Regions from separate parts of the Homo sapiens genome. Here region 1 is linked to region 2. A link means that fine-mapping ties the variant in region 2 to the expression of a gene that starts in the linked region. Tissue or cell type: lung. Region 2 holds a variant in brackets; the other region holds the start of a gene. All regions are shown on one strand. Distances are from middle to middle.

Region 1 (6,249 bases), 28 kb after region 2:
GAGAGGCGGTTATACTTATAAACACCAGGCTTCTATCTTGGGATTGCGTGAGTGTAGGCAAAGATGGTTACCCAAGGCAAAAGTAGATAAACACAGAATAGAATGTTGGGGAGAAGAGAAGATAGGAAGGGGCAGAGCCAAGGGAACTATTAATAAAAGAACAGCATATGCCAGCCCTGGAGAATCAGTATGGCAGTGCATCCAGGAAAGCTCATCAGCTTTAGAACCATTGACAGCAGTCACCATACTCATTCTTTCCTCTGCATGTTGGCAAATGCAGAGTTAGCTCTCAGATGTTCCTATGGTGACAGCAGAAATTTTGGTTCAGTATCTTGCTTACAACTCTATTCTACTCTATGGTGTATTCATTCAGACATCTTAGTCACTTAGACTATTAATTCCTTAATAATAGAGATCTGGTTTTGTTTTTTCATTTTTAAATTCCCACTGCTTAATGCTGTGCCTGACACATGGTACATATTCAATGAAAACTTTTTCTGAGTGAATGAAATTTAAAAGCTTCCTCATGCTTCCAGTTAGAACTTTGGAGTCAGGGTATTTTGACAAAGGCTCCCTCCCAGATGGAATAAAGGAGGAATACTATTCATTGCTTACCTTCTTAAGATGCTTTTGAACATTTTGTTAGGTGGCTGGAACATTTTGTTCAGTGAATATTTTGTATGAGTAAGCTATGTTTGATGATGAGCTGTTCGTGGTGATGGAGGTGAGAAGTGTGACTGTCAATTGAAGGTAGTAAAACAGAAATAATAAAGATTCCATCCTCCTCTACCTAAGCATGAAATGTTCCATATCAAACTCTCAGTTCTCTTCAAACTCTCTCCCTAGGGAGCCTCTTTACTCCAGGCTCCAGTTATCACCACTATGAGCACACAGACATTCCTTCCTCATCTGGACCCATATCACTTCCTAACTTACATCGCTCAGAAGCCTCTGAGGCTCAGTTTTGCACAAGCAGAATTAATGATCTTCCACTGCACTTCTGGTCCTCTTCCAGGATTTCCTCTCCCAGGGCTCAGCAGCACCTTCCCCAGCAAGTTAGGAACTCAGGAACCAACTTTTCTCAGTCTCTTTTCCTCATCTCCCACATCTAATCCATGAAATTCTTCCAATTTTAAGATATAAAGAACTCTTGGATCCCTCCATTTCTCCACTGTCAAACTACCACCCAATTCTGGAATTCTGTAATACCCCCAAATGTATCTGCCTATGACCATTCCAAGCCCCCTCCAATCCCCTCTCCACCTCACAGCTCGGAGGATCTTTTCAAAACTCTAATCTGATCATGTCGTATTTCTGCTTAAACCACCTTAATGACTTACACTTTTAGCCCTAACTACCACTTACAAGGCCTAGTAAGGTCTGACCCTTGCCCACACCTCAGGGCTCATTTTGCATGCTGTACTCCTTCACTCTCTCTGGGGCCAACCACAGTAAATTTCTCTCATTCTTTGAGAGGCATCATGCTGTCCCCTACCCCTTACCCCCAAAGCCACCAAGGACTTTGTACATGCACTTTCTTCCCCACTTCATGTAGTTAATCCCATGCTTCTTTCTGATCTCAGTCCACACATGACTTCCTTGGAGAAGCCATCAGAGATCTCTCCAACAAAGTCAAATCCTTTTGCTATATTTGCTTATGGAAATATGGCCCCCATCTTTGCAGCATACATCTCAGTTGTGATTTTGTATTTATGTGTGTGGGATTATTTCACTTACATCTGTCTGCTTCACTAGACTCTAGGCTCTGTGAAGGACAAGAACCCTATGTGCTCTTGTTAAGTGCAGTGCTTGGCACATAATGAGTGTGCAGTAAATAGTTGTTAGATGAGTGAATGGGAAGACCAGAGAACGCTCTTGCATGTTATTAGCTGTAGTCACAGTAAGAAAGTCCTGTTTCTCTGGTCCATCCACTGGGACTTGGTAATGGTGTGGTCATAGGTAACTCTTCTAGACAATGGTATTTATGATAACTTCATCAGGAATTAAAGCCAAAGTGCTGAGGTTTTGTCCTGGTTCTGCAGTAGTGTGGCCTCAGGCAGGTTATAACTTTTTAAAGTCTAAATTCTAAATGTCACCTACAGATGAGAAGTCTCCTTCTGCCTTTGGCCTCTCACCAGCTGCTTTCTCCATGTCCTCTCCTCCCTCCCTTTTTGCAAAGCTAGGGGAGGGCCTGATGCAGAGCTGGCTTCCCTGTGGGAGGACTGGAAGGAACCACACAGCATGGATACTAATTCCATGAGTCCACATTGGTAATCAGAAACTAGGCCTGCCTTGCTATTTAGAAACTAATGCTATATTCTATTTCTTCAGATAAGCCAGTTTTGAAAAACAAGGCTTGAATATTTGGCAGGACAAGGAGCTACTCCCAAACACAGTTTCTTGCCAGCAAGGATGTCAATTTATCAAATTGAAAGGGTATAACCTAGGAGCCTCGGTTAGGTGTACTGGCTCCCTTTCTCGTTTGATTAGAATGACATACACGCTAATTGATCTCTTTCCGGCTCAGTCATCTCCATGCAGTAAAGAATTTCAAGCTGCTATTGTTTATTTCCTATGTATTATGTCTAAATATTTCATGGTGAATGAAGAAGAGTGACTATTTTCAAACTGGAATGCTTCTTCAGAAGAAACCCAAACTGGAATGTTTCTTCAGAAGAAACTTCAGAAGTCACCAAAAAGGTGACTCCTCCATCTTTCTGATTCTTGGATCCTAAAGTATCTTCAGCAAGTGAAGCCCAGTTTCATAACCGAAGAGGTGACTCCATCTGTCCTACAGACTTGCAGTGTGAAGCTTGCAATGGTTTCTCTGTATGTTAATTTCTCCATCTCTAGGATGGCCTATGTGGTTCTTACTAACCTCAGAGTGGTATCATGAAGCCACTGAAATGATACCAGAAGAAAACAAGAGTGATTAATCTTCTAGGATGATAAATCTATATTTTCTTCAAATTCTTCATTTTGCATAAAAACCTTTTTCAGAAAAGAATGTTAACATTGGATATATCTACACCTGATTTGACAGTTCCAAACTACACCCCAACCACCCACTTCTGAATGAGAAGAAAAAAAAATCAGAAGCCTGCAATTGTGTAACATGAAAATCTTTTCTGGACCAGGGCCCGTCACTGTGATTTGGCAACACAACTGGCACATCTCTTTTCTCATCTCTTGAAAAAAACCAACAGAGAAAAAAGTACCTTGAGAATAAAGGTAATGATTAATCTGTCAGGCACAAAAGGGATTGTTTTGGGGATTTCGGGTTCTAAGTCGCAGATTCAAACAAATAGCAGCGAACAGGGAATGACAGTTCCACCAGAAGACGATTAAGCCACAGCCTCTAATTGGAACGGCATTTGTACAGTCAGAGACTCTTACCAGACATCTCCAGGAATCTGTGAGCCATTGTCAAAACGTCCATTTTCATCTGGCTGTGAAAGTGAGGACCACAACAGGTAGGTATTGGTAGAAACAGGAGTCCTCAGAGAAGCCCCAAGATGCAGCCTGAGGGAGCAGAAAAGGGAAAAAGCTTCAAGCAGAGACTGGTCTTGAAGAGCAGCTTAGCGAAAGAAACCCTCTCTGAGTTCTTGGGCACGTTCATCTTGATTGTAAGTATTTCCTGATTTCCTACATTCAGACCCAATAATGCCTCCCTAGCTGCCAGGCTGGTAGTGGAGAGTTTTGTTTGGTTTGTTTTATTTAAGTTAATTGGGATCAGATTCATCTTTTCCAGGAAGAAACAAGTTACTAGAGGCTGTTTGACTATTTAGGGGTTGTGATATTAAGTTTTCAATTACCTATTGCATTTACCCACAAAAGTTGATGGGAATGGAAGAGAAGGAGTGAGTGAAGTGCCTTCTTTATTTCAGGTATTTACTTATACTCTAAAATGGCTTTGTGATTTAAAAGTCAGTCGTTAGTGTTTTCATTGATCAATTGATTTGTACCCTGCTTGCTTCCTCCAAGCATTGGGGTGACTCAGCCACCTGGAATAAGCATCAATAGTCAATAAATATAGTTGGCAAAAATATACATATGGATGGCAAGAAACATCTCAGTATGACAAGTACTTGACAAGTATTGTGCTGTCAGATCACTTGATTTTTAAGAAATTAAAAATTGCACTAGGTAGAAATAGTGTACCAGGCAATAGTCCAGCTTTAGTTTTGTGTCATTTTTGGTCTCTATTTAAAGCAAAGTAATCTCTAAATATCTTTGGAGATTTACAAGACAATTACAAGAACCTTCTAGATATAAACGAGGGACGACTTCTAAGAACCTCTTGAGGATTGCCCAGAGATTTACTCAGCTATTAACAAGAGACTGGAAAGTTTACTTAAGTGGTCTGGGCTTTCATTTTGCTGCACGTTCTAGCATTCTCTGTATCCTGAAGTTTTACCTGGAACCAGGCCATTTGTGAATAGAAATGTATTATCATGTGGCAACTATTGATTTCAACTGGTTTTTTTTATCCTGCTTAAGGATTTCCTACTCCAGGTATAAATAATTTCATTTTCCTTAAAGTTATAGAGAATAGCCCATAAACTCTGTGCATTAAAAGTTCTTTGCTTGGGGCAAATACATAATAATTTAGAAGAATAAGCTTGGAATGCATCAGCTAAGCCAAGAATGAGAAACAAATGTGAACTCAAAAAATTGAACTAGTGGAATGTGAAGAGAGAGTCATAAGTTTTCTGGTCTCTGAGAAACACATTAGACCAGATTCGTTACAGTATTTTCAGGGAGTTACGGACAATTTCTTGCACTCCTCATCTTCCCTTGGCATTCATTCCTGGCTGCTCTGACCACACTCACTGTCATAATGTAGCAAGACATTATGTAGTAAGACATTATGTAAGTAGTTATTTCTAACTAAAATAAAAGAAATAAAAGAGAGAAGATGAAAGTCAGTGATTCTTATGATTCCCGGTCACTGCTTACTGGAAAATCTTTCTTAGTGAGACTGAGACCCCTCTGTCATGTTACTTGACAATCTGGCCCCAAAGAAGCAGTTGTCAATACAGAGTGATTACAGCCTCACAGTGACGAGTGAGTCAGAAAAGTGAAGCAAATTCAGTTACAATTCTTAGTGCTCTGCAGAAAACAGAGGAGGAAATGAACTACACATCTTTTTTTTTTTTTTTTTGCAACCAAAAAGTTTAAAACCCTCTGTATTTCTTAAGAAGAACCTGTTTCATAATCCCGTGCTTTCTGTGTTGAAAGTGAAATTTGCTTTCAGCAGTTCACTGTTCAACTGGCCTTGTGTCTTCCCCACTATGCAAGGTAGGGGCTAAATAAAGAACATCTTGATATTGTCTGTTGAAAAATTAAAACTTGTATGTTCTGGATAAAGCCAGTCATTTCCTGAAATATTTAATTTCCATTTATACTATACATTTATTTTCTAAAGTGAACCCTAATAAAATCTGCAACCTTGATTATCATCTTCAGTTTTGTTGGAGCTTGTGGGGATGTATAAACAAAAAGTTCCTGCACAAACACAATTTTTTTAAACCAAGAAATCTACATGGTTTTGCTGAAAGTTTATCCAAAGTAATTTTCTGCTTTATTAGAGAATGTGCATTTTGCCTTGTATTTTCTAGTAAAAAGCTTTGTACATTGATAAGGCAAAGGGAAGGGGAACATCGAAAAGATGGCAGAGGATATAAAGGACTCAGTCTTTCAAATATGTGAGATTGTTTTTTTTCCGCCAACCTTGGGAGTCTGGTTCTATTTTTTTTCCCTCCTTTCAAAAACTGCTCTTATGGGGAGCATCTCAAACTAATCTAACACCATGGTATAAATTACGGGTCCCCAACACATGGGCCACGGACTGGTACAGGTGGTCCCTGGTGCTAAAAGGTTGGGAACAGTTGGTATAAAGGACTGATAAGGCCTACTGGTAGCATTAAGAGAAAAGAAGGTCCATGAAAAATTCTTTATAAACTACAACTAAAACCAACAACAATTAAGTCATAAGCCAAAAAGCTAGCTCTAATTTGGCCTTTTAGTCATTGGGATACGTAGGCCTTTCACCTTTACTAGTGTGGGGGGAAAGTTTGCAATGCAAAAGGCTGATCTCTTCCTTGGGCTGAACTTCAGAGAATCTCTAGTCATGTCTAGTCATTTCTCACAGGGACTATGCTCACTCCTACTACTCTATATATTCTCCTCTCTCTTCAAACTTTTCAGGATTCTTTGATACAGAGCTCATCTTATTGAAGATGCTGA
Region 2 (6,249 bases):
TCCAGTTTTTCAATTCTGACCCTATATCACTGGCTCAAGTATGCATTACTCCTTACCTCCACAATTACATTATTTCCTCCATTGTCAAGTTGCTATCTCCCCCTTTCTAATAAATGGGTATCTCATTTTCTTATACAAATTTTGTATAGAATTTGACCTCAGTAGTTTTCTGTTATTAATTTTTACGTGGATTTGATTGGCCAACTTTCTTTTCATGAACATTTAGAAGAAGGAAGTTCAGTTAGCTCTTTAAACTTCACAAAGCTCCTTCTTGCTGTTTTCAGGTAGTGTTAAAAAATATTTAAAGGCTTGCATTCTGGGATATTTTGGTTCTGTTCCTCCCACTCATTTTTATCCAAACCTTCATCTCTATTTTGATTCCACTCCTAGCACTTTCTCCTGGAGTCAGAACTTAAATGGGAAGGGAGCCCTGATGGGTCAGTTTGGAGAGTTTATGAGGGGCTGGACTTCCCCTGTCCCCTAGGCCCTCACCATTTGCCCCTTGCACTCACCTATTATTAGAGATGATCTGAACTTTCCCAGTGTTAGCTGCTGGCTTCATATCCCTCTTCTCCCATGTTTTCTGTTGGATATCTGTTGACTGATTCAGGGTTTTTCTCTTTTCAAGTTTTGATGCCTTCTTGCTTCTTTCTGCTTCCTCCCTGACAGAAGAACATAAGACTCAAGCTTTGTAGCAGTTAGTGGCTTATTCCACCTGTTTATATTTTGGGGGTGGGGGGAGATGTTGTCACTCAGTTTTGTTATAACTGTTGATCATGAGTTTTTGGTTTTGCTGGCTAGGCACTCTGTGTTTGTTTGTTTGTTTGTTTGTTTGAGACAGAGTCTCACTCTGCTGCCCAAGCTGGAGTGCAGTGGTACAATCTCGACTCACTGCAACCTCTGCCTCCCAGTTCAAGGAATTCTCCTGCCTCAGCCTCCCAAATATCTGGGATTATAGGCATGCACCATCCCACCTAGCTAATTTTTGTATTTTTAGTAGAGACAAGGTTTCACCATGTTGGTCAGGCTGGTCTTGAACTCCTGACCTCAAGTGATCCACCCACCTTGGCCTCCCAAAGTGCTGGGATTACAGGCATGAGCCAACACGCCTGGCCCACTCTCTATTTTTATGTGGTGATTTAGGAAGACAAAAGCTATCCTGCCACTGCTACTGCCATTTATCCAGAATCCTCTGTGTTAAACATTCCAAATGTGTTAGATTTTTGTGTGAAGTTCCCAAGAAAGAGAACAGTTTAGTGAAGGAGACAGAGAAGCAGACCACAATCAGGGTGCACTCGGCTCTGTACACAGGTACTATGTGTGCAAGAAGAGCGTTGCCTAGTTTTGTGAGATAGTGGGGAAGAGAACACGAAAAACTTCCTGGAAGAGATAATATTAGAGCTGAGCTTTGAAGGACAATTGTAAGTTAGCTAGGTTGATTGAGTTGGGGAAGTCTCTTCTAAGCCAAGGAAATCACATGGGCAAGAGAGTGGAAGCTTGAGATAATAGGACATAGTTAGATACCATATGTTTAACTATAGATGTACAGGGACTGAGAGCATGGTTCTTAGGAGAAATGATGAGATATGAGCCTAGAAAGATGAGTGGAGCAATTCATGAAGGTTGAGGTTGTAAGCTGTGGAATGCATGTAGCATCAGTTATAAACAAGAGACCTTGTCTCACAGTGTGCCCTGCTCTGCCTTGTTGCTCAAAGAAATCATTCCAACAGTGATCCCCACCCCTTCCAGTCTAAATAGAACCCTGTGGTTCATACTAATCTTCAACTATCCAACTAATTTGTCTATTGGTTCATTTTTCAGATTTTTGCCCGAACTGTCTTCTGTAAAGTCTCTGTCCCTAGCCTCTTTCTGACTACTTGTTAAATTTTGGAAAGTTCTGTTGACTTCCCACTGTTCCATCCCAGCTCATCAGCCCTGACTCTAAGACAACTTGCCATCTGGCTTCTGGAATCATTACACCCCTCATTACTGTATTCCTTTGTCTATAGATCAACTATTATTAAGCATTTAAAATGTACCAAAAGATGAATAAGAAATTGTCTGTCTTAGTTTGGAATCTCCACTAACTTAGATATTGAGACAAGTGTTAGGGTGTAGTTAGTTTATTCAGGAGGTGCTCCCAGGAAGCACAGGAGGAGGAGTGGGGAAATCAAGAGAGGGAAGGGATAAAAGCTAGCAAAGGATGCATTAATGAGTGTGTTGTTGTGGACAACTGGGGCTCAGTTCCTCTGGTTATCCTCTAAGAAATCATGCCTCAGAATGGTCTTAACAAGGGCCAAGAAGCTGCAGTATTTTCCCACAGATTTCTATCTCTCATTGGTTGAGATTTGTCCTGGAAGCAATACATTCTTGGCACTTCTGAGTTGCTCTGCAGCTGTGCAGAACAAGTTCCCATGGCATTGGATAAAGCCCTCAACCAGCAAAGCAGGTGGACCCACACTTAAGCTAGGAAGGTGTAACTATCTCTGTAACTATCATCTGCATGCTCTGTAACTATCATCTGCAGTTGCAGAAAAGCTCAGAAGTCAGCATGGGGATGTAGGACAGGGCATAGACACTATTTTCTATGTAGTCCTTGCTTTCAAGAGGTTTTCTTCTAGTAGGCAGAGACAGCCATGTGAACAAATAGAGTGTTGTAGTATTGTGAGTGCTATGGTAGGAGAATATACAGTGTACGTGTGGGAGGAGGTACAATGGAGGAAGTGGTGTATTCTACTTGGAAAGGATTGGGAAAGGTTCCCAAGAAAAGTCACCCATAGACTCCACTCTGTCCTACTTGACCTAATCTCTCAACTGAGACACAAACTCACAACTGAGTTGAGGGGAGTGGGCAGGGAGGATGACAACAGAAGACTTCTATGATCCAGTCTGCACTTTGGTGAGTCAGTCTTCCAACAGTGTGGAGGACAGGCTGGAGCAGAACAAGTCCAGAGGATTCATTAGGAAACTTTGTACTAAATCATGCAAGACAGTCCGAGAGCCCGGATTATATCTGTGGCAGTGGGGCTGAAGAGAAGAGAAACATTCTAGAAGAATAATGGAGGATTGAGAGAACATGTTAATGGATTGCAAACGAGGGTTGCAGGAGAGAGAAGAGTTTAAAGATGTGTCTGGATGAAATGACTGGGTCATGGTGATGCCATTTAGGGAGATG[G/C]GGATACAGGAGGAAGAAAAGGCTTTACAGGAAGGAGGGTGACCTCCTATATGAATGAGTTGAGGTGCTCTTGGGACATTCATATAAGGACTGTGACCACAGCATGACAGAAATTAGAAAAGGTGAAGGACAATGTGGCCAAAGAGTTTGGAATTCAAAGGAATGAGAGTTGAGCAAACAGTGAGGACTCAGGTAAGTTGCTCTCTTTCTCTTGTCCCAGAGATGCAGGTAGGAAAGGAGATATAAAAGAATGAACCATTGAAAATAGAGTCACAAAAGAAATTCGGTTCTCAGAAGAGAGACAATAAGACAATTTGCAATTGGGGCCAAAGGGAGAAGCAAATGGAGAAGGTGAGGGTAGAAGGATCCTATTATTAATCACAGACTTTCCCCAGGATTCTAAAGAGAAACTCATGAGAAGTTGTTGAGGCATGTTTGCCAAGCCCATCCCCAATTGATGGGAAGCGGAAAAGACAGATGGAGTGTATTTCCAGCTCACTATTAATAAACAGCACTTTCCATCTGTACCATAGGCTAAATAATCTCACTTTATTTATTTATTTATTTATTTATTTATTTATTTACTTACTTACTTACTTATTGAGACGGGATCTCGCTTTATTGCTGAGCCTGCAGTGCAGTGGCACAATCACACTCACTTCAGCCTCAACTTCCCAGGCTCCAGCAATCCTCCCACCTCAGCCTCCCAAGTAGCTGGGACCATAGGTGCATACCACCATGCCTGGCTAATTTTTGTATTTTTGGCAGAGAACAGGGTTTCGCCATGTTGCCCAGGTTGGTCTGGAACTCCTGAGCTCAAGCAATCCACCTATCTTGGACTCCCAAAGTGCTGGGATTACACTTGTGAGCCACCACACGCAGTCCTAATCTCACTTTCTAAAGCCTTCTAAGTTATGCCATTTTCAGTCTTTTATGAGAGAAAATACCTGCAAAATATCTTTCAGGCTTTTAAATATCAAGAGTTGAAATAAAGTTAATATTTTTAGTTGAATACTTTAAAAAATTTTTGTCCCATTGAACGTTTTTTTCTTTGTGCAGGTCACATGGTGGACCATATTTCAGAACAGCTATTATCAGATGGTGGAAGAAGGGCCAGAATGAAGGACACAATGTGTTTTGAGGTAGATAATTGTTTTCTGAGAAAAGATGAAACAGACGAAAAGGAATTATCCATTCATAAGATCCTTTAGGTGTTCCAAGGAATGTATAAGAAGCTTTTTTCCTCAGAATATTGACTCATCCCCAGCAAGAGGATGATTCAAAATAATAAGTGATTATAGTACCGGTCAGTAACAACTCTAAGACTTCATAAAGGAAAACATTATGAATGATAAATTACGCAGAAGAAAGTCTTTGATAAAAGGGAGGAAATTACACTGGTGGAGAGGAGTGAGATAAGAGAGCATTCTTGGCAGGGCAACAGTGTGAACAGGTGTAGAGTTAAGAGTGACAATGCATTTTCAGGGGAATGACTTAGAATGTCCCAGCTGGGGGATGTTGGGGATGACATTGGAGAGATAAAGTGGGTCTCATTGGCTGATGGCCCTTAATGCTTGGTGCAGAGAGTGGATTGATCTGATAGGTAAGAGAAGACATTGTAAATGTAGCAGGAGAATGCCGGGATAAGAGTGACATTAGAGAAATAATTTTCTGGATTGTTAAAGAAACCAGTTAAGCCAGTGGCTCGCAACATATTTGGGGCACTGACTGCTGAGGTAGATTGAATAATGGCCTCCCAAAGACATTCACATTCTAATTCCTGGAACCCATTAGTGTTATGGTATGTGGCAAAGGGGACTTTGCAAATGTTAGGGATCTCAAGATGGGGAGACTATCCTGGATTACCTGAGTGGGGCCAATGTAATCACAAGGGTCTTTATCAGAGAGAGACAGGAGGTCAGAGTGAGTAGGCAATGTAACGACATAAGCGAGGGCTGGACTAGTGCAAGGAGGTGACCACAGGCCGACAAATGCTGGTGGTATCCGGAAGCTGGGAAAGGCAAAGAAACGGAAGCCTCCAGAAGGAGTGAAGCCCTCCCAAAGCTTTGATTTTAGACTTCTGTCCTCCAGAACTGTAGGAGAAAAAACTTATGTTGTTTTAAGCCGTTAAATTTTTAGTGATTGTTACGGTGGTACTAGGAAACTGATACAAGCCCCTTTAAGAGGCTGATGGAAAGTATTATTTGACACAAGAAATACGTGTATGTACACAAACACACAAGAATTTAAAAAATATTTTCAGGGGTTTTATAGTCCCACTAAAGCTCATCTGTGGACCTTATAGAGGGTGTTTAGTTCCCAGGTTAATAAACCCTGGAGTTGACAGGTTATTTTCATACTTAACACATGTAATAAAAAGGTTTAGGGCTGTATCAGTAAGACAGGAAAAGACAGTGTAAATCTAAGAGGTATTATGGTAGAGGGCTAAATTTGCAGTCTAAGGACAGGGCTACATTAAAGCTGACTCCAAGATTTCAAACCTGGGAGACCAAGAGAATAGGTTATGTCAACAAGAGATGGAGAAGGTAAGAAGACAAGAAAGTTTGCCGGGAAAAATGTGGGGTACAGCCTGTGATACAGAGGCTACCATTCGAGGTCTTCAGTTCATCTCAGGACCTAGAACCCCCAAGGAGAACACTTGTGTGAGGCAAACCAGAGGCTAGAGCTCAGGCTTGAAAAGAAACGTGAGAGAATGAGCAAGAGAGAGGCCAAGAACAGAGCTTGGGGTAGAGTTCCCCCAGCAAGGAATTGAGTAGAGCCAGGGAAGGGACTGGAAATGGATCATCATGGATGCCACAGAGGTGGGCGTGAGGATGATGCCCCCAATCTGTACCCGCCAATTCCTCTAATCAATATAATAACTGACTGCTACCTGAGGTTCAACCCCAGGATCAGTTCAGTTCCTAGGAAGACTGGTAAGTTGGTCTTCAGCCAGAGGGATGTTAAGATGGAAAAATATAGTTAATTGACTCAGAATTGGGGCCAAAATAACAACAAACAACAGAAGTAAAATAAATAAACAAAGTGCAGGACAGCATAATGTGAAAAGATAC

The links. PIP is the estimated chance that this variant, and not a neighbour inherited with it, causes the effect.
Region 1: it holds the start of AQP9, and the variant in region 2 is fine-mapped to the expression of AQP9 in lung (TOPMed, PIP 0.97).

What each region holds. Positions count from the first base shown.
Region 1 is chr15:58,135,051-58,141,299 of GRCh38, forward strand. It overlaps AQP9 (aquaporin 9), which reads left to right and starts at 3,331. Exons shown (of 6, transcript NM_020980.5): 1 at 3,331-3,626. The coding sequence starts at 3,516.
Region 2 is chr15:58,106,807-58,113,055 of GRCh38, forward strand. No RefSeq gene overlaps it. Among named protein-coding and RNA genes, the nearest start is that of AQP9, 28 kb to the right of the region's middle. RefSeq lists a silencer at 3,772-3,991 and an enhancer at 3,775-4,974. The variant G/C (reference allele first, on the strand shown) is at 3,176.